Linked DNA regions of Homo sapiens. The protein of the gene in region 1 purifies or fractionates together with the protein of each later gene. This does not show direct contact. Each region holds a gene or a part of one and is shown on either strand. Other genes may lie near its edges.

Evidence for each region.
Region 2: the proteins of LRRC46 (region 1) and PLCD3 purify together in Homo sapiens (affinity purification with mass spectrometry; 4 studies listed by BioGRID and IntAct, with this or other methods). This does not show direct contact.

The regions. Positions count from the first base shown.
Region 1 is NC_000017.11:47,834,670-47,838,219, reverse strand, and holds the end of LRRC46 (leucine-rich repeat-containing protein 46), read right to left. Parts: intron 2,868-3,550; coding exon 2,821-2,867; intron 2,555-2,820; coding exon 2,445-2,554; intron 2,188-2,444; coding exon 2,118-2,187; intron 1,888-2,117; coding exon 1,745-1,887; intron 1,471-1,744; coding exon 1,100-1,470; 3' UTR 501-1,099; downstream 1-500. Other genes in the region: SCRN2 (secernin-2), read left to right, coding at 218-376. UniProt on the Homo sapiens protein: Required for normal spermatogenesis and male fertility. Plays an important role in sperm flagellum biogenesis.
Region 2 is NC_000017.11:45,126,016-45,129,688, reverse strand, and holds part of PLCD3 (1-phosphatidylinositol 4,5-bisphosphate phosphodiesterase delta-3), read left to right. Parts: intron 1-3,673. UniProt on the Homo sapiens protein: Hydrolyzes the phosphatidylinositol 4,5-bisphosphate (PIP2) to generate 2 second messenger molecules diacylglycerol (DAG) and inositol 1,4,5-trisphosphate (IP3).

The DNA of each region.
Region 1 (3,550 bases):
ACTCCCAGTGGGACTCTGGAAATATGAAGGAACTAGGGAGTGGAAGAGATTTCAGAGCTGGGGAGAGGAGTTCCTCCCTTCAAAGCCAGCAACTGCCTTTGGGGAATGTCGGGGGGTATCTCCTTTCTCCTGCTTGTGTGAGGTGGTACACAGTCCCCCCTTCACCTGGCGGGAAGCCTGTCCCGGACAGACTCATCTCAGCTTTCCCTTGGGGCAGGATCGGGGGCAGCAGCTCCAGCAGAAACAGCAGGATCTGGAGCAGGAAGGCCTCGAGGCCACACAGGGGCTGCTGGCCGGCGAGTGGGCCCCACCCCTCTGGGAGCTGGGCAGCCTCTTCCAGGCCTTCGTGAAGAGGGAGAGCCAGGCTTATGCGTAAGCTTCATAGCTTCTGCTGGCCTGGGGTGGACCCAGGACCCCTGGGGCCTGGGTGCCCTGAGTGGTGGTAAAGTGGAGCAATCCCTTCACGCTCCTTGGCCATGTTCTGAGCGGCCAGCTTGGCCTTTGCCTTAATAAATGTGCTTTATTTTCTCTTCAGTGAACTTTATCCCAGGACCAGTGGGGGTGGGAGAGCCAAGTGAGGCCCAAAGGCAGCTGTGGGCTGGCTGCGGGGCCTGTGGTTGTGTACTCATTCCTATGAGTGGGTGAGTGATGGGGACTGGGCAGGAGGACAGGGAGGGGACAGGAGCTGGCTGCTGTTGGGGATGACTAGGACCACAGCTCCTTGGTCCTTGGCTTGGACCGGGGAAGGGCACTCGCTAGGGGTGGCAGTGAGATGGCATGCCTCTTCCATGAGGTGGTGCCCGCTTCCTGCCCAAGTGGGAGCCAGGAAGCCAGCGGGGGCCTGAGGCATGCCTGCCCTGTGGGTAGCTCCCGAAAGATTCCAGACTCGCTCTTTAGAATCAGGTGGCTCACTGAGCTCTGTATTTTGTTTCCTGGAGCTTTCACTGGTTTCTTCCCCTGAGATACCCCAAGTGACATGAAAAGCATACTCAGGGCCTAGAGACACTTTACTGGGGATGGGCTTCTGTCACAGGTCAGAGGTCTGAGAAGAGGGGCAGGCCCCACTCCTCTCCACTAGTAGAGAAAGGTTGACAGAGAATCATTTCTTGCTTCTCTTGGCCGTAGTTTTGGTTGTGCTGGGGGCCTCAGCCACAGAGGCCTTGGGGGCTGTGGCTGCTCGTGCCCCCTTCCTTCCCCAGAAAGAGCTTTGGTGGCCCCTGGGAATCAGACTGCATGGTTTCTTGGTGGGAGAGGAGGCCTGGGGTGAGGAGACGGCCTCAGGGACTGTCTCCTCCCCTTGCGCAGGAGTGGCAGAAGGGCTGCTGTCCCCAGCCATGGGCACCCCAGGTAGCAGGGGCAGGTCGGTGAGGGTGGGCTGCATCTCCATCCTCAGCAGGTGCTCTGTCAGGGCCGTCTGTTGCCGGTGCTCCCTGTGCCTGCTCAGCTCCTGCTCCAGCTCCTTGAGGAAGCCTGGGAGGGGCCGGGGGTGGAGGGTACAGGGTGGGTGGAGCCCTGGGCTCAGCAGGAGGGTCCCTGGGCTCAGGGAAGTCTCTGGCTGGCCCCTTGTCCCTTGTGGGAAGGAGCCTGAGGCTGGGGCCCAGGACTGACACCTGGCTCTGGCCCAGATGTTGATCTGAACTTGGGGCTCCCCTCCCCGGACGCCACTGCCACCTTAGCTTCCCTCATGTCCCACAGGGCAGAGGTGGGCTCTGGGGAGGCTGAAAACCTTGGAAAGCAGGGTCACCTCGTTCTGAGCAGAATGGGCCACTCAGCTCTGGGAACTCCTCATCGCTTGAGGCTTCATCCTCCTCATCCGAAATCCAGCGCTCCACCACAGGCTGCCCGTCCAGGTCCAGGAGAAGTGGCAGGGCTTCTGTCACCAGCTCGCTGCAGAGCAGAAGGAGCAGAGGTTACCCAGGAGGGCACCCTGGCGTGGAGGATGCAAAGACACGCACCACAGCACTCACACCCGGAGGGGTGGTGGCTCATGAGCTAGGTAGGAGGTGGGGGAGAAGGTGTCATGGACAGGACCCCAGGTTTGCAGGCTGAGAGGGGTCTGGGCTGAGTTAGCAGGTAGAGCTCAGCCATGACCTTTCTTCCCACCCTCCACTCCTTACCGGTAGCCATCCTGGTTGGTGCAGCTGTTTCCAGACAGGTTGAGGATGAGAAGGCTCTGGGGGAACTCATCTGCACACAGCAAAGAGAGAGGAAATGGGGTTCTCACTTGATCTTAGCCAAAAGACCATGAAGCGATGGGAATGGGGTTCTCATACCCACTTTCTAGTCCAAAGCCAGTACCTCTAGGCACAACCCCTTGAACTCCCTGAGGATGAAATGTGGACCTGCAGGGGCATGGCTAATAGAAGCATGGGCAGATGGGTGCAGAGGGGAGGGCAGGCCCCACAGGGGATGTGTTTGGTGAGCCAGGGCGAGTGGGTTCCTACCCAGCTTCAATGTTTCTATCAGGTTCTCAGAAAGGTCCAGAAACTGGAGGCATGGGAGGTCGAGGAGGTTTTCCACCTGCCTGATTTGGTTTCCTGCCAGAGACAGGAAGCTGTAGGGGAAGGAAGGGGTACAGAGGCAGAGCTGAATCATGGAACAGCTGGAAGAAAAGAGGAGGGCACCTGACACCGGGGCCCCTGGGCTAGGCAGCTGATGACCAGTGGGGACACATGGCCTTCTGGGGTGAGGGAGTAGATCTAGGCTTGCTGGTCCTTGACTGACAAGGACCCAGGCTTGGAGAAATCTGAACCAGTTCTTTGGGATATGGCTAGGTTCCCCCAACCCCTCTTCCCCTGCCTGAGCCCTGGCACCACATACCGCAAGGAGGGGATGCAAGCCAGGTTCTCAATTTGCTGGATCTTATTCTGCAAGAAGAAACCGAAGTGGGGAAACCAAGCTGAGATCAGATGCGTCAGGGGCCCTTTACGGGGACAAAGCCCCAAGACCATGTCTACTCTGCAGCTGGAGATCTGGCACTTTGGGAATGATCACCCCACTCCTTGAACAGGTTGCCACTACCTTAAGAAAGATGATTTTCTTTCCCCATGTGGATGGTTAAGGGTGTAAACCTGGGGTATCTAAACCTGACTACGTATACTCTTCTGATTCCACAACCAAAGAGTGACCTGGGAATCAGAAAAGGAAACTAAGAAGCCACCAGGAAAACGGAAAGGGCCTTGGTGGTGGCTTGCATACACAGAGAGAACAATGAGCATACAGGAACTTGACGGTTAAAGTTTCTATGGGGAAAGTTGAAGCGAGCTGGGAATACTCAACCAGGGGAAGGCTGAAGATCAACCAACCACCACCACCACCACCAAACAGCCTTCAAGTAGGATCTGAATGATGTACAGGAATCTTCATAGTTTCCTCTTCTTCAAAACAGGAAATGGGCTGGAGCTATTTAACGTGAAAGATTTAGAGTAGATGCCAAAAAGAACTTCTAGATCAAGAGAAGTGCCTAAAGAACAGTGGAAGGAGCACAGGTCATGTTCAGGATCTATTTTGAGGGAATTAGTTTTTCAATTCAGGACCCTATGTCATTCGT
Region 2 (3,673 bases), 2.7 Mb from region 1:
GAGGCACTGTGCTGAGCTTGCATCAGACCTGATCCTGCTTAATCCTCAGGCATCCCTGTGCGGGAGGTGCTGTCCTCATGTCACATTACAGACGGGAAGCTCAAGGCGGAGGGGTGAAATCACCGCCCAAGGCCACATGCCTGCCTGCTGCCAGAGCCTAGTTTTCCATGATGGCTCCCAGTGAATACTTTTTGTTGTTGCTGTTGTTGTTAGTTGTTTATGAGACAGGGTCTCATTCTGTCACCCAGGCTGGAGTGCAGTGGCATGATCATGGCTCACTGCAACCTCAAATTCCTGACCTCAAGTGATCCTCCCACCTCAGTCTCCCAAGTAGCTGGGACTCAGGAGACTGGGAGACTGGGTACCACCACATCCAGCTAATTTTGTTTCTGTTTTTTGTAGAGTTGGGGTCTCACTGTGTTGTCCAGGCTGGTCTTGAACTCCTGGGCTAAAAGAATCCTCCTGCCTTGGATTCCCAAAGTGCTGGGATTACAGGTGTAAGCCACCATTCTTGGCTAGCCTGATGAATACTAATGAACAATTTTGTCACTGTCCCAGGCGCTTTTCGCATATTATCTCATGTAATGCTCACACTAATATGAGGTAGGTGGTACCAGTAGCCTTCTCTTACAGATGAGGAAACTAAGACTCAGAGAGATTTGGTAACTTGCCTAGGGTTCAAAGCTGGGAAGTAGCTGAGAGAAAATTTGAACCCAGGCAGTGTGGCCCAGAGTCCGTGCTTGTCACACAGTGACTGATAGAGAAGCTGATACCTGCAGGGGGCCTCCTGGCCGCTCCTCTCCCATGGGGGCCCTGCCAGCCCCCAGGAGCGTCCTCACAGGGCTGCCAAATAAAATACAGAACACCCGGTTAAGTTTGGAATTCCGCTAAATGCGGAATATGGAATGTATTTATACTAAAAAATTATTCTTTATCTGAATTTCACATTTAACGGGTGTCCTGGATTTTCTCTGGCCACCCTGTGTCCCCACAGCCCCGTGTGTGCCTGTGCCCTGATGCTCCGCCCCTGCCCCTCATCCTCCCCATGGGCAGAGGCCTGAGTGGGCAGAATCCTGCCCCCTTGCCTCCCCAGCCTACACACACTACCAAGTGCCCCTGAGCGAGAGGGCTCGGCCCATGGCCTGCCTGGGATGTCTTCCGCAGGGTGAGTGGGACTGCTGTGGGTGACTTGGCAGGTGAGGGTCTTCAGAACAACCCCCAGCCCTGGCAGGTGCCTGGCCTGGGTGGTGGGTAAGCTGGGTGGCCCTCCAGTCTAAGCAGGGGCATGCCAGGTGGGACTAGGGGGCTGGCTCTGCCAGGCCCTGTGGTCCCCCTCACATCTTTCCCTGTCCCCTACCCTGACTTCCGCACCCAACCAGGTTTCATGCCTGTTCTGGCCCCAGAGAAAAGGGTGCTGCCACCCCCACTTGCTGTGTCCCACCCGGGGCCAAGGGAAGCACCGCCTGCCTTTCCTGACTTTGTTGATTCTCCAAGGAATGTTATGGACTCTGGCACCGAGCCCCCGCCAGGCTCCAGCCCTGGGTGTGGCAGCCAGCTGGGTCACGGGGGACATGCTTGGTGCCTGAGGTGTGGAGGCTGCCTGCTGGCTAAAGGATTAGGGTGGGAGGGTCTTTGGGACCCCTCGCCATTGTGTGTCCTCTCCTAGAGCCTCACAGCCCCGGCCACCTGGAAACGCTCTTTCTCTACTCCCTGCTCGGCCTTGGCCACAGCTGCTGGCTGTAGCAGTTCCCTGCATGACTCGCATTCCTGTGGAGCCCTGTGTGCACCTCCCGAGTGCGAGCCGCCTATTTCCCCCTGGCTGGCCCACCTTCCACCCTCTCCACCCATGAACCCTGTACGCACACACACACTCACACGCACACACTCACACACATTCACTCACACTCATACACACACACTGTCTCACGCACACACACACTCCCCACCTATGCATACACCCCACACACACCCTGCCCTGCCTGCATGCCACCCCTCCGGGACACGCCTGGACAGAACTCCCACCCTCCCTGCCAGCTGCCCTGGCGCCTGTCTCCACTGCACAGCCTCTATATCCATCCCTGCCTGGGGGCGACCTGCACTATCTTCAGCACACAGGGCTTGTCCTCTCTGAGCTCAGTGGTGCACCTGTGAAAAGGGTGGGATTTGGGGCCCCTTCCAGCTCTGACATGAGGTAGTTTCTGGTCCCTGGTCTTGGCTACCCTTACAGAACTGCTCAGGCCCCAGACCATCCACGCCCCAAACCGCCCGGGCTGCAGGTGGAAGTTGAGAAACTGGGCCTGCCCTTTCCTCAGCACGCCTGACCCCTCTCTGAGGCTGAGATAAGCGGGCAGCTTGGGAAGGTGTCTGAGCCCCAGCTGACAACACTGAATTGGGCGGGAGGTGCCGCTGTCCTGGTCTGGGGAAGGTACCCCCTGGAGGCCATGGGACTAAGGGGACAGATGGATCAGAACACGTGGGTGCCTCTTTCCACCCGGGGCACTAACTCACTTCCCCAGAGCCCTGCCTCAGTTTCCTTCTTTGTGATCATTTACTGAGCACCCACTATGGGCCAGGCCTAAACCAGGCTCCATGTGCTTGTGCCTGTTGTGGCCACACACAGCCCTTTGGGGTCAGACTCCCCCAACTTCCACCACATTTCAGCCCCACCGGGTGCCGACCTGGCTGTCTGCTTCTTTAACAGCATTTTTGAGATATTCATTCACATACCTTATAATTTATCCATTGAAAGTACACAGTGCGGAGCACTTTGGGAGGCAGAGGCTGTTGAATCACTTGAGGCCAGGAGTTTGAGACCAGCCTGGGCATCATAGTGTGACCCCAACTCTACAAAAAAATTTAAAAATTATTCAGGCCTGGTAGTGCAAGTCTGTAGTCCCAGCTCCTCGGGAGGCTGAGGTAGGTGGATTGTTTGAGCCCAAGAGTTTGAGGCTGCTGCAGTGAGCCATTATTGTGCCACTGCACCCCAGCCTGGCTACAGAGCAAGACCCTGTCTCAGAAAAAAAAAAAAAGTATACAATGGTTTCCAGCATATTATATCATTAAACTTTAAAAATTATGGTAAAATAGGCCGGGTGCTGTGGCTCACGCCTGTAATCCTAGCACTTTGGGAGGCCGAGGCGAGTGGATCACTTGAAGTCAGGAGTTCGAGACCAGCCTGGCCAACATGGTGAAACCCCATCTCTACTAAAAATACAACAATTAGCCGGAAATCACTTGAACCCGGGAGGTGGGGGTTGCAGTGAGCTGAGATCGTGCCACTGCACTCCAGCCTGGGCAACAGAACGAGATGCTGTCTCAAAAAAAAAAAAAAAAAAAAAAAATAGGCTGGGCGCAGTGGCTCATGCCTGTAATCCCAGCACTTTGGGAGGCTGAGGTGGGCGGATCATGAGGTCAGGATATCAAGACCATCCTGGCTAACACGGTGAAACCCCGTCTCTACTAAAAAATACAAAAAAAATTAGCCAGGTGTGGTGGCGGGCACCTGCAGTCCTAGCTACTCAGGAGGCTGAGGCAGGAGAATGGCGTGAACCCAGGAGGCGGAGCTTGCAGTGAGCCAAGTTCGTGCTACTGCACTCCAGCCTGGGCAACAGAGCGAGACTCCATCTCAAAAAAAAAAAAAAAATATGGTAAAATATATATAATGAAATTGGCC